Homo sapiens: one gene and its partners. The protein of the gene in region 1 interacts with the protein of each later gene in a biochemical or structural test. Each region holds a gene or a part of one and is shown in the gene's direction. Other genes may lie near its edges. The genes, in order: ATRIP, ETAA1, MCM5 and TOPBP1.

Region 1 (7,025 bases):
GACAGGAAATCAAGACCAGCCTGGCTAACATGGTGAAACGCCATCTCTACTAAAATCCAAAAAAAAAAAAAAAAAAAAAGCCAGGCATGGTGGCACACACCTGTAGTCCCAGCTACACAGGAGGCTAAGGCAGGAGGATCACTTGAACCCAGGAGGTCAAGGTGGCAGTAAGCAGTGATCACACCACTGCACTCCAACCTGGGTAACAGAGCAAGACCCTATCTCAAAAAAGAAAAAAAAAAAAAAAGTGGGTATTTTCAGCATTTTCTGGCAAAAGTGGGAAAATATTGGGTCCTGAAATGTATATGGAACTATTTTTTACAGGTGATCATAAGGTCCACAGATTATTAGATGGCATGTCAAAAAATCCTTCAGGGAAAAACAGAGAAACTGTTCCAATTAAAGATAATTTCGAATTAGAGGTACTTCAGGCACAATACAAAGAACTTAAAGAAAAGGTAAGTGACTTAACTTGTGGTTTTTGTAGCTAATTCATTCACTTACGTGTTTAAAAGCATTGTACAGTAAAATATACAAAAGTTGTAAAACAAGTGTCTAGATTCATCCCTATGACATGGGAAAAGACTAGGGAAAGAAAACCAGAAAGTTTAGGCTGAAAGAAACTAAATTGTGAGATTCCTAATGCCAAAGGCAAGAAGAAAAACACTGTATACCAGATCCAAAAAGAGATACAAACTGTTAGGGTACTAAGATGAATTTATAGCATGTATCTTCATGTGAATAATACAACTTCATAATGGTTGCTATTTTCATTAGCAGCTTTGCAAGAAAGCAGACACTTCATATCACCATCTGTAGGTCCCTAAGAAAACCAGGAATATGTGGAATTTTAGTTGTGCAAGGTATGTGACCCAGATTTTTTTTTTTTTTTTTTTTGGAGATGGAGTCTGTCATCCAGGCTGGAGTACAGTGACACAATCTTGGCTCACTTCAACCTCTGCCTCCTGGTTTTAAGCGATTCACATGCCTTAGCTTCCAGAGTAGCTGGGACTACAGGTGTGCACCACGACGCCCAGCTAATTCTTGTATTTTTAGTAGAGACGGAGTTTCACCATGTTGGCCAGGCTGGTCTCAAACTCCTGGCCTCAGCCTCCCAAAGTGTTGGGATTACAGGCATGAGCTACCACACCCAGCGACCCAGATCGTTAATGCCTCTTAGAGCCTAAAGAATCCGGCCAGGCGCGGTGGCTCACACCTGTAATCCCAGCACTTTGGTAGGCCGAGGCCAGTGGATCACCTGAGGTCAGGAGTTCAAGACCAGCCTGGCCAACATGGTGAAAACCCGTCTCTACTAAAAATACAAAAATTAGCTAGGCATGGTGGCGGGCACCTGTAATCTCAGCTACTCGGGAGGCTGAGGCAGGAGAATTGCTGGAACCTGGGAGGTGAAGGTTGCAGTGAGCCGAGATCGTGCCATTGCACTCCAGCCTAGGCGACAATAGCAAGACTCCGTCTCAAAAAAAAAAAGGAATCTGGTCAGGCAAGGTGGCTCATGCCTGTAATCCCAGCACTTTGGGAGGCCAAGGTGAGAGAATCGCTTGAACCCAAGAGTTCAAGACCAGCCTGGGCAATACAATGAGACCCTGTCTCTACAGATAAAAGTGAAAATTGGCCAGGCTAGTGGCACATGCTTTGTAGTCCTAGCTACTCAAGAGGTTGAGGCGAGAGGATCACTTGAGCCCAGGAGTTCAAGGTTACATTGAGCTATGATTGTGCCACAGCATTCCAGCCTAAGCAACCCCATCCCCCTCCCTGGCAAAAAGAATCTGCATGCATGAGTGGCAAGTGTATGCTTAAGCTATCTTGATGAATATCAGCTGTCCCATGAACAGGCCTAGCAGACCATGGTGACATCTGGTTGCTGTGGATATATTTTGAGTACTCATTTGTCTGTTTTTCCTGTGCTTTCTCCATCTCCCCAACTACATGTTAAAACAAAGTACCTAAGTAGTTTTCTCTTACAAAGTTTTCACGAGATTAATTTGGGATTTACAGATGAAAGTAATGGAAGAAGAAGTTCTCATTAAGAATGGAGAAATTAAAATTTTGCGAGACTCACTACATCAGACGGAATCCGTTCTAGAGGAACAGAGAAGATCACATTTTCTTCTTGAGCAAGAGAAAACCCAAGCACTCAGTGACAAGGAAAAGGAATTCTCCAAAAAGGTGACCCAGAGCATTTGTTTTGCACCAGCTTTGCCTGCCCACTGAGTTCCTTTGACCAGGGTTGCCTGTAAATCTTCCAGGGAGATTTCAACACTTGTTTGTCTTAAATACTTTCTGCTATCATCTCATTGCCATCCACTCTTCTTCCAGGGTCTGGATATATTTTGGAAAGGGATTTAGATGAAACTCTATTTTGCTGTGGTAGTTGGTCTTGGCAGGAGTAAATAACTAGCTTAGCATTTCTAGAAACAGGTTTACATTAAGGCTCTTTTGCTAGATCAGAAACTCAACTGACCTGGCTTAGGCTAAAAGGAAACGTATTGGCTTCCATATCCAAGTCTGGGAAGAACCGGGGTATGCTGGGACCTTAAATGACTTAAATCTTGCCAGGACATTTTTATTCTCTATGCTATAAACAGGCTCTATACTTATGGTAGAGGGTGTGTTCTCCAGAAGCTCCTGGGCTCATATTTTATAAATACAGAGCAGAATTAAGACTTAGGGCCACATGCAGTGGCTCACACCTATAATCCAGCACTTTGGGAGGCTGAGGTGAGAGGATTACTTGAGCCAGGAGTTCGAGACCAGCCTGGGCAACTAGTGAGACCTCATCTCCACAAAAAAGAAAAAGAAAAAATGAACAAAATTATCCAGGCATGGTGGTGTGCACCTGTAGTCCCAGCTACTCAGGAGGCTGAGGTGGGAGAATTGCTTGAGCCCAGGAGGTTGAGGCTGCAGTAAGCCATGATCATGCCATTGTACTCCAGCCTGGGCAATAGAGCGAGACCCTGTTTCAAAAAAAGACTTAGGCTCCCTCATCTCAAGTTTTAAAATTCTGAGAAAGGCTCTGATTGGTTTAACTTGAGTCAGTTGTCTGTCCCTGGCCAATTGCTATAACCAAAAGCAACCAAAAGCAAAAAAATGACAGCTCCCATTCTAATAAAATAGTCAGAGGTAGGGAAATTATTGAATTTTTTTTTTTTTTTTTTTTTTTTTGAGACAGGGTCCAGGGTTTCACTCTCTTGCCCAGGCTGGAGTGCAGTGGTGCAATCACAGCTCACTGCAGCCTTGACCTCCCAGGCTCAAGCAATCCTCCCATCTCAGCCTCCCAGGTAGCTGGAACTATAGGCACACACCACCAGGCAAAGCTAATTTTTAAATTTTGGTACAGACAGGGTTTTGCTGTATTCTCCAAGCCGTTCTCAAGCTCCTGGGCTCATGCAGTCCTCCCACCTTGGCCTTCCAAAGTGCTGAGATTACAGGCGTGAGCCACAATGCCCAGCCTGTTTCTCAGGGAAAGGAAAATGCTATTCTGGAAGGAAAAACAGTAGGTATCCAGTACCTACTACAACTTTCCCTCAGCACCTCCTCATGCTTCAATCTCAAGGACATGGGATCTTATTCTCATTGTTTCATTCAGCAAACTTAGCAAACTTTAAGCACTTACCTGTGCCCATCATTAACCGCAATAGTTAACTTTCTGTATAAGTGATGAAGAGCAAGGAATTTGCGGTCAGACAAACCTGAATTTGAATCCAGGCTTCATCACACATAAGCAGTGACCTCAAGGTAATAACTTAAGCTCCCTGGCTCATTTCCCTTATCTGTTCCAAGACATAACCAGAAAGGTTGTTGGGAGACTCACACATTCTTGCACTTACTGTGTCTGGTGCTGGGCCTGGCGCAGAGTGTGCTTGGGGAATGATGGCAGTTACTGTTGGCTGTAGCAACTGCAGGCCAGAGCAGCAGGTCTCTCTATACTGCACAGTGTCTTGGTAAACTATTCCAACTACTCTGCCCAAACTTTGAGGAAGACCTGGAATTGTGCACCAGTGCGTTCGTTAATAAAGGTCAATATGTTACTGCTGACATAGGGCACCTTACCAAGCTCTATGCTGGGTATTTTACACTCATCATTCTACTTAATCCTCCCAACTATCATGAAGACAGGTGTTTTATGTTACAAATAAGTTAGGATTCAAAGACATTAAATAAATGGTGGGCTGGTATTTAATTCTTTTTTTTATTTTTTAAATTTTTTGTAGAGGCAAGATCTTGCTATTTTGCCCAGGCTGGTCTCGAACTCCTGGGCTCAAATGATCCTCCCGCCTCAACCTCCCAAAGTGCTTAGGATTACAGGCCTGAACCACCACACCCGGCCAGGGCTGGTATTTAAACCCTCACAAACTACCCTTACAATAGAGTCCAGTATCTTTTTAGAGTACCATATTGTCTTTCAGAAAGAAAGCTAATGTTTAATATTTTAGGACATTTATGTCACAGCAGACTTTCATATGTATTTTTCATTGTTTGTCTTTTACTGGCTTGTGATTTTGAAGCCCAGAGATATTTTTGTGTATATGATGGGACCACTACAAGCATGTTTCTTTTGCCTTCCAGCTCCAATCATTGCAGTCTGAACTCCAGTTTAAAGATGCAGAGATGAATGAATTAAGGACAAAGCTCCAGACCAGTGAACGAGCAAATAAACTGGCTGCTCCCTCTGTTTCCCATGTCAGGTAATGATGGTGCTGGAGGGATAGTTCAGTTTTGCATTATTTAGTAAAAAATCTGCATAACAGTGTCAGGCTGGTCCTAAATGAAGGCCATTTAGACCCCTCCACCTGGGCAGAGATCCTCTTTTCCTGAAGGATTCAGAGGTGGTTTAGATGAAGCTTGCATGGTTTGAGACATCACAGCATAAAGGCCTATACTCTAGAAATGCTGCCTCTGTATGGCACTTTATAAACATAATTCTTCAGGACTAGAAAGACCTGGAAAAATGATCTCCAAATTTTGGGGGTGGGCTAGTCTCTACTTTTATGTAATTTGTTTAACTGATTTTGTTGCAAGCATGGGTGTATTTTAGTTCCAGCTACTTGGAATATTTTTTTCTCATTTGCTTTCTGGGGACCCTTGTCCAACAGCCCCATCCTTTGTGGTCAGATGTGCTCAACTTGTTTTTTTTTTCTTTTTTTTTTGAGACAGAGTCTCGCTCTGTCACCCAGGCTGGAGTACAGTGGTACAATCTCGGCTCACTGCAACCTCCGCCTCCTGGGTTCAAGCAATTCTCCTCCTTCAGCCTCCTGAGTAGCTGGGACTACAGGCACACACCACCACGCCCAGCTAATTTTTGTATTTTTAGTAGAGACGGAGTTTCACCATGTTGGCCAGGCTCGTCTCAAACTCCTGGACTCAAATGATTTGCCAGCCTGGGCCTCCCAAACTACTGGGATTACAAGCATGAGCCACTGTGCCTGGCGCAGCCTGGAAATTTGAACAGTGTCAGTCAGGGCATCTTCTGGTTTTGAACTTTCTACCGCCTTTGTTCATAATGGGCAGTGTGTGAAACTGAACTCTCCATGCCTTGCATTGTCCACATAAGACAAGAGAACTGAGGGGATCCTCTTCACACATCAGTAACAGAAAGACCTCAGCATTATATGATCAGATCAGAGAGTTAATACTGCTTCTCTACCATAAAGACATTGGCACTAAGTTGCTCAGTTTTCAACATACCTAGTAGGTTTATCAAAATTATGATATTTATTTTGATAGCCCTTTTTCTATTTAAAGTCTTTGCATTCTATTGGAAGTCTTTTTTTTTTGAGACAGAGTCTCACTCTGTTGTCCAGGCTGGAGTGTAGTCACATGATCTCAGCTCACTGCAACCTCCACCTCCCGGGTTCAAGTGATTCTCCTGTCTCAGCCTCCCAAGTAGCTGGGATTACAGGCACATACCACCACACCAGGCTAGTTTTTTTGTATTTTTTTTTTAAGTAGAGATGGGATTTCACCATGTTGGCCAAGCTGCTCTCGAACTCCTGACTTCAGGTGATCCACCCACCTCAGCCTCCCAAATTGTTGGGATTACAAGGGTGAGCCACTGTGCCCAGCCTGGAAGTCTTGTGACTATTAAAAAATCGTTTGTTCCACATTGGCTGGGTGCAGTGGCTCACACCTGTAATCCCAACACTTTGGGAGGATGAGGCGGGCAGATCACTTGAGGTCAGTAGTTCAAGACCAACCTGGCCAACATGATGAAACCCTGTCTCTACTGAAAATATAAAAATTAGCTGGGCATGGTGGCATGCGCCTGTAATCCCAGCTATTTGGGAGGCTGAGGCAGGAGAATCACTCAAACCTGGAGGCAGAGGTTGCAGTGAGCCAGGATCACACCACTGCACTCCAGCCTGGGCAACAGAACAAGACTCCATTCCAGAAAAAAAAATAGTTTGTTCCACATTGAAAAGATGTTTTGCACCAGGCATGGTAGCTACAGAGGCAATCCCAGCTACACAGGAGGCTAAGGCAGGAAGATTGCTTAAGGCTAGCAGTTCGAGACCAGCCTGGGCAACATAGCAAAACCCCATTGCTACTTAAAAAAAAAATAAAATTACTGGCCCCAGTGGCTCACGCCTGTAATCCCAGCATTTTGGGAAGCTGAGGTGGGCAGATCATTTGAGCCCACGAGTTCAGGACTAGCCTAGGCAACATGGTGAAACTCTATCTCTAGAAATAACTCTATCTCTAGAAAGAATAAAAAGTTAGCCAGATGTGGTGGTTGCACATCTGTAGTCCCTGTGCTACTCAGAAGGATGAGGTGGGAAGATCACTAAGCCCAAGAGGTGGAGGCTGCAGTGAGCCGTAATTGTGCCACTGGGCTCCAGCATGGGCAACAGAGTGAGACCCTGTCTCACCAAAAAAAAAAAAAAAAAATTAGCTGGCCATGTTGATGTGTGCCTGTAATCCCAGCTACTCAGGAGGCTGGGATTACAGATGGGTGGATTGCTTGAGCCCAGGAGGTCAAGGCTGCAGTGAGCTATGATCATGCTACT
Region 2 (7,639 bases), on another chromosome or scaffold:
TAGTTCAAATCTCCAAGAAAGAATAGGATTGTCTCAATGCATCTTTTTGTGTCAGTCAGAGGTGGAGAAGCTGGCTATGGACTGGTTCCTAAAATCAGGTGCCCATGTCTAGTCCAGTCATTTTTACCCGATTGGGCCCGTCTGGCCAGACATGGTCACCTAGGCAGCAGAGGCTCCTGATGGAGCAGCTAGGCATAATAGGTGGTTCTAGCTAATACAATTGCAGCTATGTCAGGAATAAGGAAAAATGGGCCCAGCACTTACCCAGGTACATTTTGGGGTGGAAACATTGTAACAAAACTGTTAAAAACAAACAAAAAAACAAAAACCCTCTAATCATTGTGTTGCTTGTTCAGATTCTGCCAAATGCACTCTCACAGATTTGGAGCTGGAGCTCTGTATATAAAACACAAACATAATTCACATAATTATGGATTTTTTTTTCTTGAAAGGAAGACTGCTCACAGTTAGCCATTGATCAGTAGCATTGACCCATCGTTGTAATGTAAGTGAGGAGGCAATCACTGGCAGAGAAGCTCCTTAGTAACTCAGACCTTCAGTGTCACAATTTTTGCCTTAATAATTATTGTCAAGTTTATAAATAATCCCTGTAAGTGAAACAAGCAAGAGTTTCACTTTGGTTTATTACAGTTTTTAGTTGCAGTAAACCTTACTTATATGTATAAATTATTCAAATGCCTAGAAATGCTGAGCTATGAATCATATTGCATTCAAACATCTGTAAGACTTTTGTTTCACATTAAAAACATTTTATTAAGGAGTTAATTGTGTTATACTTATTTCAGGAGCTATAGTCAGGAAGTAAATTTAATTTGAAGTACACTTAGAAATGTAACAGATTATGTAAAGTAAGTAATTTTCAAGTTAAAATTTACTATAATTTCCTACCCCATAATGATTACAGGTTACAGCCATCCTAGGTGTGTTAAGACAACACGTCTGTACTTTAGGCTCAAGTTGTTCATTTCAGCAATGGTTACTTGGGCACTATAGAATTTGGAGTTATGGTAAAGTATTCACTGTTATTTTATTTGCAGCATTAATATGCTTTAAAGGATTACTACATGGTTATTTCTCTTATAAACATCACTAAATTCTTTAAACTTCCTTAATTACTTTCTAAATGTGAGTTGGATATTTATTTGGTAAATTAAGTTCTTTTTACATTTTTTTTAATGCTTCTAGGATTTTTGGTCATTTGAGAGGTAGGAGAGATCTCTGAGAGAAATAGTAATATTCCTGCTAATTTATACAAGTGAAGGTTCAAGTAATTAATTTGAATTTTAAAAGATGTAATATCACTTGTATTCCAGTCTTATCCGGTTATAAATAAATAAAACTAAACAATGGTTTAAATACATGTAGGTAAAAAACAATCATGGAAAGAAAAAGTATTAGTAGAAGGTCAAACACTGAGGAAAAATAATGGAATTATCTATTCACAACGGTTTATATGGTTTATATAACTGCTAGCCCTGAATCTCAAATTTAGTTCTAGGATTTCTGTCAGCAAAATTAAAGAGTAAAAACAGAATAGTTTACAAGATAGAAGAAATATATCAGCTCCTCAGTAGGAACTAAGATCTTTGCCTTACATTAACATTTTAAACATTTTAATTGATAAATATAACATGTGTGTAGAAAATGAACAAAATGTACAGCTCAGTAGATTACCACAAAGCAAATACTTTTGTAATTAACAACTAGAACATGAAAATAAACAAAGCCAATAAATACATGAAATTCTCTCCTCCCTCTGTCCACTTCTAATCACTGTCCCTTCCCCCTCCCGAAGGTAACTATTATCCTGACCTTTATGGTAATCATTCCTAGATTTTTCTTTATCATTTTAACACTAAAGCTTACATCCCTATACAATATAGTAGAACTTTGCCTGATGGAATTTATATGGGATTTATTTAACATTATGGAGGAGGGTTGGGAGGTCTAGCTTTTTTTTGCTCAACTTTATGTTTGTCAGATTTATCCATGTTGTCGCACAGAGTTGTAGTTTTCATTTTCATTGCTATTTTGTTGTGTGAATATAGTTCAATATATTTATCATTCTACTGTTGGAAAGCATTTGGTCCACTTACAGTATGAAGTAATTTTGAATTGAATTTTACTGCTAAAAGCATTTTTCTTCTTCTTTGTTTTTTCTTTTTTTTTTCTGTTGCCCAGGCTGGAATGCAGTGGCACAATCATGACTCACAGCAAGTCAACTTCTGGGCTCAAGTGATTCTCCTTCCTAGTAGCTGGGACTACAGCCATGCGCCAAAATGCCCAGCTAATTTTTTGTATTTTTTGTAGAGATGGGTTTTCGCCATGTTGCCCAGGCTGGTCTCAAACTCCTGGGCTCAAGCAGTCCACCTGCCTCGGCTTCTCAAAGTGCTAGGATTACAGGCATAAGCCACTGCATCCCACCAAAGCATTTTTATAAACTGTATCTTGATGAACAAGTCCATGCATTTAAACAGAGAATATTCCTCAGAGTGGGATTGCTAGATCAAAAACTGGTTTCCAAAGTGGTTGTGCCAAATTATACTCTCACCAGCAGTACGTGACAGCTTCCATTGGTTTACTGCCTCAATACCTATATTGTCAGTCTTTTTAACTTTAGCCATTCTGATATGGTTTTCATTTGCATTTTCCTGATTAAAAATGAATCTGATTTTTCCATAAGTTTGTTGATAATATTTTCTCTTGTGAAGATCCTGCTCAAGGGTCTCATCCACTTTTGGTTTTGACAGTCAATCATTTCCTTAGTGATTTGTATCAGTTCTTCATATAACCTATATATAGGCCCTTAAATATGTCTTATAAATATTTTCTCCCAATTTGTGCCTTGCCCTTCCTTCTCTTTAATGTTGTTTTTGAATGGACAGAAGTTCTCAAATTATCAATTTTGTGTAGTCACATTTATAATTATGCCTGGTGACCTTTGTTTTATTTCAAATGCGTTCTGTCATGAAGACAATTTATACCTTCTAAAATGTTATTTTATCTTCTACAATTAAATTTATAATGAATATATATGCACCTGATTTGGGGATAAAGTTTGAGGTAAAGGTCATGTTTCTTTCTTTTTCTACATGAACATCAAATAGACCAAGCACTATTTAATTTCAAAAGTCCTTTTACCATTGCTCAGAAGGGTCACCTTTGTCTTAAATCGTGTTCATTTATATGGAAGTCTGTTTCTGTGCTATCCTGTTTCTTTCATCTTTGTCTATCCTGACACCATCATAACACTGTCTTAATTACCATATAAGTCTTGATACCTGGTAGATATCAACCCTCATTATTCTTCGAGAGATCTTCAAGAGTTTATTGATATTTTTGGTCCCTTGCATTTTCATATAAATTTTAGAAAAAACTTACCATGTTACACACACACAGTCACACACTGGGCCTTCATATGTATTTATGTTGAATCTATAGGTCAGTTTGGAAATAGCTGACATTGTAACAATATTGAGTCTCACAACCCATGAACATAGTGTAACCATTTATTTAGGTCTTCGTTTTCTTTCAAAAAAAAAATTTTTTTTTTTTTTGAGACGGAGTCTTGCTCTGTTGCCCAGGCTGGAGTGCAGTGGCGCAATCTCGGCTCACTGCAACCTCCACCTCCCAGGTTCAAGCAATTCTCTGCCTCAGCTCCCAAGTAGCTGGGATTACAGGCACCCGCCACCACGCCTGGCTAATTTTTGTATGTATGTATGTATGTATGTATTTACTTATTTTACACGAAGTCCCCCTCTGTCGCCCAGGCTGGAATGCAGATGCGCGATCTCTGCTCACTGCAAGTGCAGTGGCGCAATCTCGGCTCATTGCAACCTCCGCCTCCCAGGTTCAAGCAATTCTCCTGCCTTGGCCTCCCCAGTAGCCGGGACTACAGGCACGCACCACCATGCCCGGCTAATTTTTTGTATTTTTAGTAGAGACGGGGTTTCACCATGCTGGTCAGGCTGGTCTTGAACTCCTGACCTCGTGATCCGCCTGCCTCGGCCTCCCAAAGTGCTGAGATTACAGGCTTGAGCCATGGCGCCCGGCCTCAAAAATGTTTTATAGTTCTCTTTGTAGGAAGGACAATCTTTAACTTATTCCTAGTTACTTGCTATCTCATGCACTATTATAAATAGTATCTCTTTAAAACTTCAATTTTATATCTGTTGCTAATCTATTGAAACACATTGATCTTTGAATATTGACTTTGTATCCAGCAACTCTTAAATTAATTTAGTAATTTTTTCTACTTTCTTTTGGATTTTTCTATGCACATAGCATCTATGAAAAATTAACTGTATTTCCTCTTCTTGAGAAATTCGAAGACTCTCAATAATCTGAATTTGACTAACGTGCAATTTTCGTTGTAAATTCAATAAAAAGTTGCTAGTGTATTCAATCTTTCCAACTCACAAGCTCCCACTCTCAGTTTACGCGGACCTGACTACTACCCGAACAACCCCCACCAGTCTGGAGGATTTTGAGCCTAGACACTCCTCCAGAGCAGGCTCCTGTCCCGGCTGCGGAAGTGCGCGCGCCCTCGGCACCTTAACAGTTCCGCCCCTCTCCCGGACCCAGCCAATCAGCGGCCGCCTCTTGCGCGCGCCCCACCGACCAAAATGGCGGCTGCCGTTGGTGCGGGGTGCGGTTTGTAGTGCTGTTGCCCTACTCATCCCTTTGCAAAATGTGAAAGAAGAAGCGGCTGGTGGAGGCGGGCCATAGGCAATGAGTCGGCGAAGGAAACATGATGACAGCCCTAGCCCGAAGAAAACGCCGCACAAAACAGTGGCGGCGGAGGAATGCGGCTCGGTGGTCGAGCCAGGGAGGAGGCGGCTGAGATCGGCCCGCGGTTCGTGGCCCTGCGGGGCTAGAGAGGGGCCTCCCGGGCCAGTGCGGCAGCGAGAGCAGCCTCCGACCGCCGCCCTGTGCAGTAAAAGTAACCCCGAGGGTGAGACGTCGGCAGCGCGGCCTGCCTTGGCTTCGGCGCCGCATCCCCACATCCCAGCTTGCAACAGGGAAATCTGGGGTGGGGGTGGAGTCTGGAGCGTGTATTCTGTCTCTGGGATTCACCCCTCGAGAGTCCAAAAATAATCCTATACCACTCCCCGATGGGCTTTTGTCCCCGAACTTCAGCACTACCCCGTTAGGTTTGACCATCCATTTGCCTCCGCCACAGGAATAGGTAATGTGGTTTACCTGTTTGCGGGAGGGCGGCTGCTTTCCAGGCTGCTCCTCCAGTCAGCAGCAGTGGTGGAGTGAGAAGAAACAGCTGATAGGCCCGCTAACCTCAGTTTTTGCCCGGAGAAGTTATTTCTCTTTAAACCCTTTTTTTCCCTGTGACCTGCTTTAGAGAAGAGTTCATAGGAAAAGTTAAAGTTTGTCTCAAAGCCTGGTAGATGTCTCACCTCATTGTGAATAAACCGGAAGTTCCTGTGTGTAACATCCCTCCAAATAAGATACTAAGGATCTCTTTCGTCTCGATTAGTTTTAGGTGTTACTTTTTAAAAGACTTCTAGTAAATCTTAGTTGGAACTGAAACTCATACAAAAGCCTTTATTCTGGAGCATGTTCTTGAAATAGTGCTTTTTTTTTTTTTTTTTTTTTTATACCTTACGTGTCTTTTTTCTTTTGGGAAAGAATCTCGCCCTGTCGCCCAGGCTGCAGTGCAGTAGCACAATCTCGGCTCACTGCAACCTCCGCCTCCCGGGTTCAAGCGATTCTCCTGCCTCAGCCTCCCAAGTAGCTGGGACTACAGGCGTGTGCCACCTCGCCCGGCTAATTTTTTGTATTTTTGGTAGAGACAGGGGTTTCACCGTGTTAGCCAGGATGGTCTCGATTTCCTGACCTCGTGATCCACCCGCCTCGGCCTCCCAAAGTGCTGGGATTACAGCCACCGCGCCCGGCCACCTTACATGTCTTTAATAATACTCCTATAAAGCAATTTGGGAATGAACAAAAATCTTTATAAAAATTTGAAAGTGATTCTAGACAAAAATTCCCAAGCATTGGATCACTAATGGTTTTTGAAGAATGGCAATTAATGTAGATTAGATAGAGTTGGTGAAAGGGGGCTAAACATATTTAGGTTTCTGTTGGGTTACTTTGGATTTTTGAATGTACCTATAAATTACAGATGGTTCCCCAAAGCCTCCAAGACTCAATGGTAATAAATAGAATGACTTAGGTTATACAGTATTGTATTATGCATTCATAAAGCTTCTGGATTATCTAGAAGTGTTTGCTATTTACAATGTGAAGTTTGCGAAGTGCCGCGTGGATTTTTATGTGAAACAAGCATTTCTGTTACGGTTCAGGTAATTATCTCTGGGAAAAAAAATTATCTTGGACTATAAAAGTTAGTCTCAGCTATTTGACCTTGGGGTCTTACGAAGTAAGGTAATGCTTTAAAATGCAACAATTGTTATTTTACTCATATTTTATATAGAAAGGTATGAAACACCAAAGAGAGCGCTGAAAATGGACTCACTGTCATCTTCCTTCAGTTCTCCTAATGATCCAGATGGACAGAATGATATCTTTTGGGATCAGAATTCTCCATTGACAAAGCAGTTAGGTAATTAATTATTAACATTTTTTATGTGAGTAAATATTTGATAAATGATTCAGATTTAACTAGAATTCTAGTCAGATAATAGCATCGGGAACCTCTGAGAATGTTATATGATTTTATCTGTATAAGTATGTGATGTAAACACATAATCCTCTAAGCTGCACTAAATAAAATTACTTTCTAAGAAGTGACAGCTGTTTTTTAAAATGGAGGGTTTTTTGTTTAAAATTTATAGAAATGTCTTTGTTTCTTTAGGTAAAGGAAGAAAAAAACAGATTTACACCACAGATAGTGATGAGATTTCACATATTGTTAATCGTATTGCTCCTCAGGTAAATATCACTAGTTTTACAGTTTGTTTTAAAACAGTGAAGAATGTGCCACTAAGTTTTTGTAGTTTCTTTAAATGAAAAGTATTGTCTATTATAATTCTTTTTTCCAAAAATAAGGCAGCAAAGATTACTGTTTTGCCTTTTCTACTTTTGAAATACATATTTTGAAAAAAGGAATATAATATAAAATACAAGATATTTTCTTAAGTATATATCTTGTTTTAATTTTTTAGAGTAATTTTTGACTAGGGCATTGTGTTTATCTGTAATGTTGTGCTTAACAACATACGACATCATTTTTCAAGTTGCTAAAATAATAGAATAAGGCAGTGAAAAAAGTTTATACTTCTATGATTGTTTTGTGATTGGTACTTCCTGTCTGTAACATTTCCCCATTGAAACTATTAATACTCATTTCCTTATAAGATTATCAAGAAACACTTACAAAAGTGGAGAGCACTGAATTCAAATTTAGTCCTCATTCAACCTCCTATGCTGTGTGACCCAGTGCAAGTTATTTAAACTCCCACCACTTCAGTTCATTCAGCCATGAACTAGAATTATTGTGTTGCTCTTGCTGTCTTCATTGGATCATTATGAGAATTAAACTAGATAAAAATTCTTTGTAAACTATAGAGTGCTATAATTGTAAGGTTACGTTAAGGTTGTTACTGTAATAGAACCATCTCCAAAGCTTTTTTTTCTTTTC
Region 3 (7,025 bases), on another chromosome or scaffold:
ATTCAGGGGTGCAGGCACACCTCAGCCAGTGTTGGTTTCCTCTTCTTTGCACCCTTCCTGCCCCACCCTGCTATGTGCCCACTCCAGGGATGAACTCAAGCGGCATTACAACCTGGGGGAGTACTGGATTGAGGTGGAGATGGAGGATCTGGCCAGCTTTGATGAGGACCTGGCCGACTACTTGTACAAGCAGCCAGCCGAGCACCTGCAGCTGGTGAGTGGGACCCCATCCCTGAGCTTCCCAGGGCTGCTCTGCCCCAGTTACTAATAGCCTGTGCCCTTCCCTTTCTCCAGCTGGAGGAAGCTGCCAAGGAGGTAGCTGATGAGGTGACCCGGCCCCGGCCTTCTGGGGAGGAGGTGCTCCAGGACATCCAGGTCATGCTCAAGTCGGACGCCAGCCCTTCCAGCATTCGTAGCCTGAAGGTGGGTCGGAGGGCAGTGGCTGCTGCATGGTGCAGAGGGCTTTGGATGCAGCCAGACCTGAGTGCTAGCTGTGTGGCCTTGAGTGAGGCACTTGACCTTTCTGAACCTGTCTCCTCCTGGAGACAAAAGGATCGTTTGTTGTTTTTTGCTTTTTGTTATGAAAAATTACACACCCAAAAGCAGAGAGTAGTATAATGAATCCCATAAAGCTTCACCCAGATTTAATAATTAACATTTTGTGTTGTTTCCTATTTTGTCCTTTTTCTTTTTTGCTAAAGAATTTTAAAGTAAATTCATGCACAGTGGCTCATGCCTCTAATCTTAGCACTTTGGGAGGCCGAGGGAGGAAGATTGCTTGATACCGGGAGTTTGAGACCCTGGCTCTCCAAAAAACAAAACAAAAAAAAAACAAAAAAAACAAAGCTAGGTATGCTGGCATATGCCTATAGTCCAGGCTACTTGGAAGGCTGAAGTGGGAGGATCAAGGGGCCTAGGAATTTGAGGTTACAGTGAGCTCTGATTGTGCCTCTCAGCACTTTAGCCTGGGTGACAGAGCAAGACCCTGTCTCTAAAAATAAAAAATAAATTACAGACATGACACTTTATCCCGAAAAAAAAAAGTTTTCTTACATAGTCTCATTAGCACCTCAACTGAAACATCAAAGATCTCTTAGTATCATTGAATATACAGTCTAGATTCAGATTGACCAAATTACCTCACATGACTCTTACAGCTCGTGTGTCTCAGCCAGGACCAGGCATTGTACTGGATTGTTGTTTAAATCTCTTTTAATCCAGGACAGCTTCCTTTACTCTGGGTGTAAGTTCTTTCACAGATACATTATTGATTTGCTAAAGAAGCAGGAGCCATTATCCTGTAGAATGTGCTGCCTTTTAGATTTATCTGAAGGCCTCCTTGGGGTGGTTACAACATACCCCTTCCCCCCCGTGATTTTTGGAAGCTGGAAGTTAGATGCAAAGGCCTGACTGTGTTTCGATTTCACATACCGGGCAAGAACGCTTATGGGTGGTATTGGATCCCTCATTGCATCCCTCCATCCACTATGCTGAGACTGACCAGGTGCTAGGTTGAGGTGGTGATGGTCACTTTATTGTAATGATGCAGGCATGGAGTCTTGAATTCCGCCTCCCCAGCCTCGCTTCTGCTTCCCACAGCCTCTTCCTGCTTTCTTTGAGAGCCCCAGCAAAACTTCTGCTCATGTCTGGTTCTCTCGTTCAGCCGGAGGAGGGCATTGAGAAACGGAGACAAGGTGGAGAGAGATTGTCCCAGTCCTGTACACTAGTGGCTCAGGAGCTTTGTGAAGGGCAAGGGCTGGCCATAGGAAGGAGTGGATCGGCTGAGAATTTATGTTTTACTTTTTATTATGGATAATTCAAACATTAGAATATAAAGAGAATCGTATAACGAATCCTCTTGTACTCATCACCCAGCTTAATAATTAGCAACTAGAGGCCAATTTTTTTTTTTTTTTTTTTTTGAGATGGAGTTTTTGCTCTTGTTGCCCAGGCTGGAGTGCAGTGGCACGATCTCAGCTCACTGCAACTTCCGCCTCATGGGTTCAAGTGATTCTCCTGCCTCAGCCCCCCAAGTGGTTGGAATTACAGGCACACACCACCACGCCCGGCTAATTTTTAGTAGAGATGGGGTTTCACCATGTTGGCCAGGCTGGTCTCGAACTCCTGACCTCAGGTGATCCATAGATGCCAAATCTTGTTTCATCTGTGGCCCTGGAGTTCTTTTGAAACAAGTCCCATACATCATATAATTTGATCTGGAACTATTTCTCCATGTATCTCTAAAAGATGAATCTCTTTTTTTTTGAGACGGAGTTTGACTCTGTCGCCCAGGATGGAGTGCAGTGGCATGATCTCAGCTCACTGTAACCCCTGCTTCCCCGGTTCAAGCAATTCTCCGGCCTCAGCCTCCCGAGTAGCTGGGATTACAGGCATATGCCATCACACCTGGCTAATTTTTGTATTTTTAGTAGAGACGGGGATTCACCATGTTGGCCAGGCTGGTCTCGAACTCCCGATCTCAAGTGATCCGTCCGCCTCGGCCTTCCAAAGTGTCGGTATTACAGGCGTGATCCACTGCACCCAGCCTTTGAAGAGTCATTTTTAAAGGCATAGCTACAATAACATCACACTTAAAAATTAACATTACGGCCGGGCGCGGTGGCTCATGCCTGTAATCCCAGCATTTTGGGAGGCCGAGGCCAGTGAATTGCCTGAGGTCAAGAGTTCGAGACCAGCCTGGCCAACATAGTGAAACCCCGTCTCTACTAAAAATACAAAAAGTTAGCTGGACATGGTGGCAGTTACCTGTAATCCCAGCTACTTGGGAGGCTGAGGCAGGAGAATCGCTTGAACCCGGGAGGCGGAGGTTGCAGTAAGCCGAGATCCTGCCATTGCACTCCAGCCTTGGCGACACAGCAAGACTCTGTCTCAAAAAAAAAAAAAGAAAAAAGAAAAAATATTACTGCCTTATTGTCCGGTGTGGGAATAGTCATTAAGATGGGGAAACTGAGGCTCAAAGAGAAGTGACCCAGACAGAAGACCACACAGCAGGTTTTGACAGAACTTGAACTAGAATGTGGGCCCCTGCCTCCCAGGTTTGTTCTGTGTTGTACTCTACAGGTCCAAGGATGTCGCCATCAGAGCTGGGGTCAGGTCTCTCTCCTGGCACCTGCCACTTTGTAGTGAAATGTGCTTAGTGTATCTCTTGCCCTGCCACCTCCCCCCCCAATTGTGCTGCGAGGTCTTTAAAAGCAGGAGCTGTGCCTGAGGCTCCTCTGAACCCCAGGGTCCAGATAGCCTGGCACTGGGTGGATGCTCTGGAAGCATTTTTTGAGCGGAACAGAAGAGCTGTGGCCCTCCCTGCAGCTCTGTGCCCACCTCCTCCAGGCTCCTGCCCAGGATATTTACTGGCATATCTCAGATGCGTCCTGGCTCCCCTTAACCAACAAGCTTCCCGATGGCTCTATTACAGTCGGACATGATGTCACACCTGGTGAAGATCCCTGGCATCATCATCGCGGCCTCTGCGGTCCGTGCCAAGGCCACCCGCATCTCTATCCAGTGCCGCAGCTGCCGCAACACCCTCACCAACATTGCCATGCGCCCTGGCCTCGAGGGCTATGCCCTGCCCAGGAAGTGCAACACGTGAGTCTGTGGCCCAGAGGGACTGTGGGAGGTGACCTGAGTGAAGATCAGAAAGGATGAGAACAAGTAGCAAGCACTGCCTGCAGCTGCTTCTAGAGATCCACTGGGATGGGCTGGGCAGGGGTGTGCCCTTAGGATTGGCACAGATCTGATGCCCTGTGGCTCTGAGACACCATGAACAGGGTCCCTCTACATTGGTGACTTCTGTCTCACCAGGATACCCAGACAGCGTTGTAGGGAACCCAGGGTTGGGAGGGAAAAGCAGTCCAGGGTAATGAGTCTACTTGGAATCTTCTGAAGCAAACTATGGTTTGCTCACTAGGCCAGATCTAGCCTGCTGACCCTATGGCCCAGGAACACGTTCGTTCATTTAAGTATTGCCCACAGCTGGTTTCGCACTACAAAGGCAGGGTATGTGGCCTCTTGGCTGGCAGAACCTGGAATGCACATCCTCCGGCCCTTTCTAGAAAATGTTTGCTGCCCCCAGTCTGAAGGAACCCCACCCTCTTCACTGGCTGCTCTTTCTTGGCTCCTTCGCTGGTGCCTCCTCAGCTTCCCATCCACCTGTGGCACAGCTGCCTCATTCCATGCTGTTGACATCTCTCACTTGGAGAGGCACGCTACCTCCTCCCTGATCCCCCGCGTCCACCCTCCACCCCCTCAGTCTGTTTTCCACCCAGCAGCCAGGTGTCCCTTGACACTCAGGTGGTCCAGTCATTTACTTCTTAGTCAAGTCCTGCACAGCCCACCACGATCTGCTCCTGGCTTCCCCAGGCCTCGCTGCCCCTCCTCTCTCCAGGCCCGGCCTCACTGCCTCCTTCCTGTTTCTGGAATACACTGACTACCCCCAGTCTCACTGCCTTTGACCTTGCTGTTTCCTCTACTGGGAGTGCTGTTCCTCAAGCTACCATAGTCTGTGTCCTCACTTCTTCAGGCTTCTCTTCACATGTCCCCTTACCAGGGGCATCTTGCCCAACCCTTCATCTTCAGTTTGGTGTGCACGTACCTCGTCTCTCCCACACCTGCCTACTTTTTTACTTTTCTTCACAGCATGTAGCTGTCACTCTTTAATATGATTGTTTGCTTGTATGTCTTTTCAGCCTCCCTTGATAGGAACTTAGGCTCCACAAGAGCAGGGACCTTTTTGTTCAGTGCTGTGCCCCCTGCACCTGGAATAGTGTCAGACACATAGTAGGTTTTGCTATGATGTTTACTTCTTTATGTTGCTATAATATCTATTGAATAATGACATAATTACCTAGGGATACGTAGAGGCTTAGACCCTCAGAATGGTCTAGAACTGCCTAGAATCCCACTGGAAAAGATCTTGGGATTTGAGTGGGGCTTTAGTAAGAGAATTGATGAACTAGCTCTTCACCCATGAGGACACCATGATCCTGCAAGAAGACCGAGTGTGACCTGTCTGCCTCCTCTCAGCAAGTTAATGGAAGGACCCAGCCTCAAGCAGTTCCCTTGACTCTTAATCCAGTGCTAGGTCCGTCAGTGTTGCCTTCCTTTCTTACCTCCAGGCAGCGTTGCCTGCCTGGCTTATCTCCAGCTTATTCTGGAGACCCCCATAAATTGCCGCTGGCAACGTCTCCTTGCTGGCTCCTGGGATGAATGAGCCCTGCCTTTGGATTCTCCAGGTAGCTTTGGTGACTCTTTTCCCTTACCTTGTACAGAGATCAGGCTGGGCGCCCCAAATGCCCATTGGACCCGTACTTCATCATGCCCGACAAATGCAAATGCGTGGACTTCCAGACCCTGAAGCTGCAGGAGCTGCCTGATGCAGTCCCCCACGGGGAGATGCCCAGACACATGCAGCTCTACTGCGACAGGTGAGGCAGACGGGCTGGGAGGTGGGCATCTACGACGGTGGATGTCCCAGCTGTGGCCCTAACCCGAGTGTTGGGAGTGGGTCATCTGGAGCAGGGTGAGTAGGGTGGAGAAGGTGGCCAGTTGCAGAGCACCTGCTCTGTGCCTAATGCTTCCATAAGTTCCTCTCATCTCGTCTTTCCATAATCTGCAGGGGCATGTCAGCCCCATTTTGCAGATGAGGAAATGTAACTTGGAGAGATTAAATGACTTCCTGTGTGGAGGAGAGCCGGGCTTTCAGCCTATGTGCATTGCTTTCCAAAGTCTGTGTTCTTCTTAGGATAAGAGGCCCAGGATGCACAGCTAGATAACCAATAGCTGGCAAAGCCTCTTCCCAGCCTGACACCCCACCTCCTACCCCAGGCTTTCTTTTTTTTTTTGAGACGGAGTCTGGCTCTGTAGCCCAGGCTGGAGTGCAGTGGCGCGATCTCGGCTCACTGCAAGCTCCACCTCCTGGGTTAATGCCATTCTCCGGCCTCAGCCTCCCGAGTAGCTGGGACTACAGGCGCCCTCCACCATGCCCAGCTAATTTTTTGTATTTTTTAGTAGAGATGAGGTTTCACCTTGTTAGCCAGGATGGTCTCGATCTCCTGACCTCATGATCCGCCCGCCTTGGCCTCCCAGAGTGCGTGGATTACAGGCGTGAGCTACTGCGCCCAGCGTACCCCAGGCTTTCTGTTAAGATCCTGCTGAACAGCCACGGTGGCTCATGCCTGTAATCCCAGCACTTGGAGCGGCTGAGACAGGAGGATTGCTTGAGGCCAGGAGTTCAAGACCAGCCTGGGCAACATACTGAGACCCTGTATCTAAAAAAAAAAAATTTATTAGCTGGGTGTTGGGGCAGACACCTATAATCCCAGCTACTTGGGAGGCTGAGGTGGGAGAATCACTTGACCCCAGAAGGTTGAGGTTGCAGTGAGCTGTGATTACACCACTCCACTCTAGCCTGGGTGACAGAGCGAGACCCTGTCTCAAAAAGGAAAACAAAAAAGATTCTACTGAGGGGGAGAGGGTACTGAGCTTGGGCCCCTCATAGTAACCTGGGTGGAAGGTTTTGAGATCTTTGATTAGGGTTCTAACCTGGGCTTGCATATCCTGAAATTGCATGCAGATGTTCTGAGGAGAGCGGATCTGTAGCTTCTGTTAACTTCATTAGTGGCAACAGAGTATGTAGGGGTCAGGCTCTTGCTCCCTGGGCAAGTTATGTGACTTTGTCAAGCTTCAGTTTCCTCATCAGTAAAATGGGGATAAGGACAGTCCTTAATCTCTCAGAGGGCTGCTTGAAAATGCATGTGGTGTTTAGCACAATTCCTTCATGCAGATTACGTAATCAGGATGTATGATTTTCCAAGCAGTTCATGAATCCTGAAAACTTACGAAGTGGGTATGGGAAGAGGGGAGTTGGAGGCTCATGGAGTGACGGTGATGGTCTTTTCTGGAGCTGTGATGCCTGATGGTATAAAGCACTTCTATGTCTGCTGCCTCACCTGACTCCACAACATGAGAGGCAGGCCACTTCGTCATCCCCCTAGGCTCAGAGGTGC
Region 4 (7,025 bases), about 85 Mb from region 1:
AGCATTATGTGAGCATTACATGCATTTGTAAAGCACTTAGTCACAGTGCTTATATAAATGAAAGAGTGATTCTTGGATAGCTTCCAGCCTTGTTGGAATCACATAGCAGGGCAAACTTTTTCTCTAAAGGAGTAGACAATAAATATTTTAGGATTTGCCAGCCACTTCCTTATAGTTATTTCCATGTTAACATGTTCCATGTTAAGGACTTGACAGTTATACCATTTAGACTTGTTAATTTTTTTCTTAATGATAGTTTCTTAATTTTATGGTGAATCATCTAAACCAGTTTTGGAACTAAGTCCTGTTGGAGCTATATAATTTTAAACTAATTCAAGTTTCCATTATACTAGGAATACCTAGAACTAACATGATTGCTCTTGTCCTTCCCAATGGATGATGGTAATACTGATAAGGACTCTTGGTAACCCCGAAGACGGGGTGAATCCATATCCCTTTATTATACACGTAAGCTTTAGTTTTGTAAGTATGGTCAAAATTATCAGATTCCATGTTACGTTAATATCCTTGCTAGGAAGTAAACTGTATAAGGTAAATTGTTGGTTAGAAAACATTTACTTTTCTCTTTCAGTTGAGGCTAAGACGTCTGAAGCCAGGCCCTTTAATGATTCTACTCATGCTGAGCCCTTGAATGATTCTACTCACATTTCTTTGCAAGAAGAAAACCAGTCTTCTGTCAGTCATTGTGTCCCTGATGTTTCTACAATTACTGAAGAAGGCTTATTTAGCCAAAAGAGTTTCCTTGTTTTGGGTTTTAGTAATGAAAATGAATCTAACATCGCAAACATCATAAAAGAAAATGCTGGGAAAATCATGTCCCTTCTGAGCAGAACTGTTGCGGATTATGCTGTGGTTCCTCTGCTGGGGTGTGAAGTGGAAGCCACTGTGGGAGAAGTTGTTACAAATACATGGCTGGTAAGACAACACTAGTGGTTGAAATAAAGTATCGAAGGATATCTGAATGCCAAGAAGGTTAATGTTTATTTCTTAGACAGTTCAGTTACAGTAAATCAATGCTTGGACTTGAACACTCTTGATTTTGCTTTTAGCAAGGGAAATTCAAAATTAAATGTGCAAGCTTCTTGGCCTAATCCCGATACAGTAGAGATTACTGTTTCCCAGGGCCACAGCAGCAACATTCCTTCTTAGGAGGTCACTCTAGGGTCATCTCATACTATTTGTCTTGTTTTCTCATAACCAAAGCATCACTGGTAATTTCACTGTTGATTTTTTTTTTTTTAACATTCCAAGAATTATGAGAAAAATAGTATAAACTAATACATTAGAAGGAATGAAATTTAAAGCAACATTCAGTAACTCTAATAATAGATCTTACCGATTTTAATAGCCTAATGTAATTAGTCGATGTATGTATATGTGTGTATGTATATATATACTCTAACATTATGATATGAAATGTATTGAGAATGAGCATACACAAGTTTGTATTAAAGTAAAATTTCTTCTTATCAAAACTAAATTATTGCTTCTGTACCTGAACCAGTGTTAACCACTGGTTGCTTATTTCAGGTTGGCTTTACTATTTCTTTTGTTTTTAAAAGGTTACTTGCATAGACTATCAGACTTTGTTTGATCCAAAGTCGAATCCTCTCTTCACACCAGTTCCAGTAATGACAGGAATGACTCCTTTAGAGGATTGTGTTATTTCATTTAGCCAGTGTGCTGGAGCAGAAAAAGAGTCTTTAACATTCCTAGCAAACCTCCTTGGAGCAAGGTATGTAATATTTTTAATGCACCTGTTGTATTGGTGTATCTTTTTATTTATTTTGACTTCTTGGAGAGCATTCAAATTAGAATTTGGTTGGGTGTCTTTATTATATTTATGAGTGTTATGTGGTTCCTTCTCCACTCCCACTGCTTCACTTGACTAGCCTTAAAAAAAAAAAGTGCCTCTGTTGTCCAAAGATGAAAACTTAGGTATCATTAGAGGTAATAACTGCAGTGGGTCCAAACACATGAAATAGTGTTTAAGTTGTGACTTCATAATGACACCAAATAAAGTAAGGTAATTGGTCATCTTTGAAAGATGCTAGAGAACCAGTCCATTACTTTGAAAGCTGACAAAAGGAAAGGATCAAGGAATTACCTTGCATTTCCTGTGCAGTTTGCATCAGGGTAACATGATAGTGGATACGACAAAGTTTCCCTTTATAAAGATGTTTCAACAAACAAATAAATAAATAAGGAATGATAAGACTGTAACCCCTAATGAATGAAAGAATCTAGGCATTGAACATCAATAGTCGATCACACAATAAAGGGACAAGACATGATGTGCCTTCTTACAAAGAATACACCACCACTTTGAAGTAGTCTTGCCAAAATAATCAAACCTCAATCTGATGATGCTTCTAGATCCAATTCCCAATTTATAGGAAATGCAAACAGCAGAATAACACGTTAAACTATACTACAGTGATATAATCAGCAAGACCCAGACTTTAGTACAACTCTGGCATAAATGATCCAGTGTCTTCAATGAATATATATTAAGGGCATGGAAAAGAAGGTAGGAACCTATAAGCTAAAAGACTTGAAAAAGCAAAAGCCTAAATGTAGTCTTTAAAGTTGCCATTATTTGATTATAGAAAAGTAAAGAAGTGATTACTATAAGTATCCAAATAGGCCAAGCACAGTGGCTCACACCTGTAATCCCAGCACTCGGGAGGCTAAAAGATTGCTTGAGCTCAGGAGTTCAAGACCAGCCTGTACAACATAGTGAGACCTCGTCTCTATTTAAAAAATAATAAAAAAAAATGAGCCAGGCATGGTGGCATGTGCCTATGGTCCCAGCTACTCGGGAGGCTAAGGCAGGAGGATTACTTGAGCCCAGGAGACCAGGGCTGCAGTGAGCTATGATCACACAACTATACTCCAGCCAGGGCAACAAAATGAGATCCTGTCTCCAAAAAAAAGCCCAAATAGTGGCTACTATTAAGAAGGGAGGGAAGGGGGTTTATATGGCATGTTGGAGAGGTTCTGGGGTAGTTAGCAAGATTCTGTCTTCTGACCTGGGTGGTGGACTTAAGGGTTTCACCTTATAATAATTCGTATAGCTGTATATTTCTTTTTTTGCTGTTTTCTGTTTGAATTATATGAAATAATAAAATTCTTTTAAAACTGAAATTGTGGAAGATAATAACATACATGATGACAGACTCCACTGGATACAGCTAAAGCTGTACTCAGCAGGAAAGTCATGCAAATTCTGAAATAGAATAATTGGGACTAGCCCTAACAGTTATTAAAATATATTTTGTGGCCAGGTCTGGTGGTTCATGCCTGTAATCCTAGCACTTTGAGAGGCCGTGGCAGGAGGCCAAGTTCAACACCAGCCTGGACAATATACTGAGACCCTGTCTTTACAAAAAATTTTAAAAATGAGCCAGGCAATGTAGCATAAATCTGTAGTCTCAGTTATTTGGGAGGCTGAGGTGGGAGGATTGTTTGAGCCTGGGAGGTCAAGGCTGCAGTGAGTCACAGTGGCGCCACTGTACTCTAGCCTGGAGGACAGAGCAAGACCCTGTCTCAGAAAACAAACAAACAAATATATATTTTGTGAAACTTCACTAAATAACAGTGTGGTTACGTGTAGCAGAAAGTTTAATTAATGGACAGCAAATGTAGCAGGAGACCCAAATGTAAAAAGGAATTTACGATACAAGTGACATTTCAAATATATATAAGGAAGACATGGCTTATTCAATAAATAGGATTCATTAAAGTTGGAGCAGTATCTCATATCTAAATAAGTACTGAATGGATTGGTGGGTTAAATGTAAAAAATGAAATTATAAAAGTACTAAGATAAACACAAAACATAGAAAAAAAAAGTGCTAGGAAACATGGGAAATTTAAAAATCTGAAAAGTTGGGAACTAGAACATAAAACCCAGAAGTCATAAAAGAAATCACGGAATTCTGTTCAATCTCAAGTCGTAGACTTCTTTTTCTGCCCCGTATTCTCTGTGTTTAATATCCTATGATCTTGAGGCACTTAATTTCTCTGTATTTTTTCCCATGTCTATACTTAAATATTGAGAGGATCAAATGAGATAATATGTAGAAATGCTTTGGAAAGTTGTAGTAGGTTAAAAAATAATAATAATGTTATTTATACACTTTGCTCCTGTCATTTTTTCTGTGCCTTCTTTTGGGAGGAAAGGACAAGGTGTGGGGGTGATAACTAATTAAGGAGGTAATTTTGGCTGTGTGAGGTGGTTCACGCCTGTAATCCCAACTTTAGGAGGCTGAGGCAGGAGGATCACTTGAGCTCAGGAGTTCGAGACCAGGCTAGGCAACATTGTGAAACCCCATCTCTACAAAAAATACAAAAATTAGCCAGGTGTGGTGGTGTACACCTGTAGTCTTAGGTACTGGGGAGGCTGAGGTGGGAGGATGGCTTGAGCCTGGGAGGCGGAGGTTGCAGTGAGCTGTGATTGTGCCACTGCACTCCAGTCTGGACAACATAGCAAGACCCTGTCTCAAAAGGATTTTTGCTGTCTGTTCTTTGCATGTCTAATTATGTTTTTATAAAAAGTTTGTTACAGCAATACATTTTTACCCTAGAGTAAGCATTTGTAAGGGGATTAGCTTAATTTCAGATAGAGTAAACCAACTTTTAATCAGTATTTTTTTTTATACTTACATGATCTCTAACCACACTGTTGTGTTGGAAATTTTGTTAGTTTTGCGGGTTAATTGTATATGTGACCATTTCCACTTCTTTAAACATAAATTTCAGTGTTCAAGAATACTTTGTTCGCAAATCCAATGCAAAGAAAGGCATGTTTGCCAGTACTCATCTTATACTGAAAGAACGTGGTGGCTCTAAATATGAAGCTGCAAAGAAGTGGAATTTACCTGCCGTTACTATAGCTTGGCTGTTGGAGACTGCTAGAACGGGAAAGAGAGCAGACGAAAGCCATTTTCTGATTGAAAATTCAACTAAAGAAGGTTAATACTTTTATTCTGTTCTTTTATATATATTTACAACTAGATGGTTTCTGGGATATAAATGTGCCAATGCTTGTGTTTAGGAAGGGTCATTGATTTTTGCTTTTCACATTGGGTGCAGTGAGGGTCTCAGTGTTCGAAGTCTACAGATGTAAGCTTGGCTCCTATTTACTGTTGATTCTTTCTATGGCTCATAGTAACACACTATATAATTAACATGCTATCTCTCCTCTTATCTTTGGGCTTCTGCATGTTTCCTGTAGACCACCTCACAGTTGCCTGCTCTTCCTGCTTATCTTTCAGTTCTCAGCTAAGATACCACTTTCCCTGGGAAGCCTTTCATTTTTTCTTTTTAATTATTATTACACTTTAAGTTCTGGGGTACATGTGCACAATATGCGGGTTTGTTACATATGTATACATGTGTCATGTTGGTTTGCTGCACCCATTAATTCGTCATTTACATTAGGTATTTCTCCTAATACTATCCCTCCCCCATCCCCCCATCCTACGACAGGCCCCGGTGTGTGATGTTCCCTGCCCTGTGTCTGTTCAATTCCCATCTATGAGTGAGAACATGCGGTGTTTGGTTTTCTGTCCTTGTGATAGTTTCCTCAGAATGATGGTTTCCAGCTTCATCCATGTCCCGACAAAGGACATGAATTCATCCTTTTTTCTGGCTGCATAGTATTCCATGGTGTATATGTGCCACATTTTCTTAATCCAGTCTATCATTGATAGACATTTGGGTTGGTTCCAAGTCTTTGCTATTGTGAATAGTGCTGCAATAAACATATGTGTACATGTGTCTTTATAGTAGCATGATTTGTAATCCTTTGGGTATATACCCAGTAATGGGATCGCTGGGTCAAATGGTATTTCTAGTTCTAGATCTTTGAGGAATCGCCACACTGTCTTGGGAAGCATTCTTGACTCACCAAGGATGGCCTTTGTCTTGGTATAATGTTTTTTGTTTCACCATGACACTCTGTATCATCCCTTTTATCTCTTACCTCAGTGTTATAATGGTTGTTTATTTTGTGTCTTCCTGCTAAATTTAAAGTTCCAGAAAGGCAGTGAACATGCATGTCTTGTGAATTCTGTATTTCCCATGTCTAACACTAGGCCTGGCATGGAGTAGCTATCTAATAAGGTTTTTTGTTAAATGTTGAAAAAAGGTGGAAGGCATAGGTGGAAGAATACAGTACCCTCTCTTGTAAGATAATAGCATCCATGGGCAAACTTCAGGGACATATCAGCAGCTTGGGAATACCTCTCAGAGTCATTACTTATTTTGCCAGACAGACTGGTAATTTTATGACTGAGGCTAAGTGATGTTCAGGTCATATTAAAATTTGATTAAGGACTTTCCAAAACTAGACTGTAGTTAACTCTGAGTACCTGTAATTGAGATTTTTCTTTTTACTCTGTCATTGACTAGAAAGACATTCACTGATAACAATTTTTGGCAAATAGGCTTATTGAGACATAGCAAGATGAAACAGGAAATCTATTATTATTTTTTCAGTTAATGTGCTTGTCTAACTCAACATATATTTAATGCATAATCTGGTTTGTTTCTTGGAAAGTAGGTATATAATTTTGTGATTTAAAGTGTACCTGAGAATTGACATGAAAACTAACAGATTAGGATGCCGAGGTAGATGGATCTCTTGAGCCCAGGAGTTATGCAAGAAAGAAAGGAAAGAAAACAGTATAAAATATTACTTCTTGTGTACCGGGAAAAAGTGGGCATTAGTGGCTCATATTTGTTTCTTTTCATTTTAAATCTCTAGAACGAAGTTTGGAAACAGAAATAACAAATGGAATCAATCTAAATTCAGATACTGCAGAGCATCCTGGCACACGCCTGCAAACTCACAGAAAAACCGTCGTTACACCTTTAGATATGAACCGCTTTCAGAGTAAAGCTTTCCGTGCTGTGGTCTCACAACATGCCAGACAGGTCGCAGCCTCCCCAGCAGTAGGACAACCACTTCAGAAGGAGCCCTCGTTACACCTGGATAC

What was found.
Region 2: the proteins of ATRIP (region 1) and ETAA1 form a complex in vitro, tested with the Homo sapiens proteins (one study listed by BioGRID).
Region 3: the proteins of ATRIP (region 1) and MCM5 form a complex in vitro, tested with the Homo sapiens proteins (one study listed by BioGRID).
Region 4: the proteins of ATRIP (region 1) and TOPBP1 form a complex in vitro, tested with the Homo sapiens proteins (2 studies listed by BioGRID).

What each region holds. Positions count from the first base shown.
Region 1 is NC_000003.12:48,449,713-48,456,737, forward strand, and holds part of ATRIP (ATR-interacting protein), read left to right. Parts: intron 1-324; coding exon 325-458; intron 459-780; exon of another isoform or gene 781-863; intron 864-2,016; coding exon 2,017-2,187; intron 2,188-4,587; coding exon 4,588-4,706; intron 4,707-7,025. UniProt on the Homo sapiens protein: Required for checkpoint signaling after DNA damage. Required for ATR expression, possibly by stabilizing the protein.
Region 2 is NC_000002.12:67,392,697-67,400,335, forward strand, and holds the start of ETAA1 (ewing's tumor-associated antigen 1), read left to right. Parts: upstream 1-4,636; 5' UTR 4,637-4,752; coding exon 4,753-4,975; intron 4,976-5,634; exon of another isoform or gene 5,635-6,341; intron 6,342-6,472; coding exon 6,473-6,601; intron 6,602-6,853; coding exon 6,854-6,930; intron 6,931-7,639. UniProt on the Homo sapiens protein: Replication stress response protein that accumulates at DNA damage sites and promotes replication fork progression and integrity.
Region 3 is NC_000022.11:35,403,120-35,410,144, forward strand, and holds part of MCM5 (DNA replication licensing factor MCM5), read left to right. Parts: intron 1-87; coding exon 88-214; intron 215-294; coding exon 295-423; intron 424-3,433; coding exon 3,434-3,606; intron 3,607-5,288; coding exon 5,289-5,444; intron 5,445-7,025. UniProt on the Homo sapiens protein: Acts as a component of the MCM2-7 complex (MCM complex) which is the replicative helicase essential for 'once per cell cycle' DNA replication initiation and elongation in eukaryotic cells.
Region 4 is NC_000003.12:133,637,931-133,644,955, reverse strand, and holds part of TOPBP1 (DNA topoisomerase 2-binding protein 1), read left to right. Parts: intron 1-592; coding exon 593-936; intron 937-1,583; coding exon 1,584-1,756; intron 1,757-4,785; coding exon 4,786-4,997; intron 4,998-6,793; coding exon 6,794-7,025. UniProt on the Homo sapiens protein: Scaffold protein that acts as a key protein-protein adapter in DNA replication and DNA repair. Composed of multiple BRCT domains, which specifically recognize and bind phosphorylated proteins, bringing proteins together into functional combinations.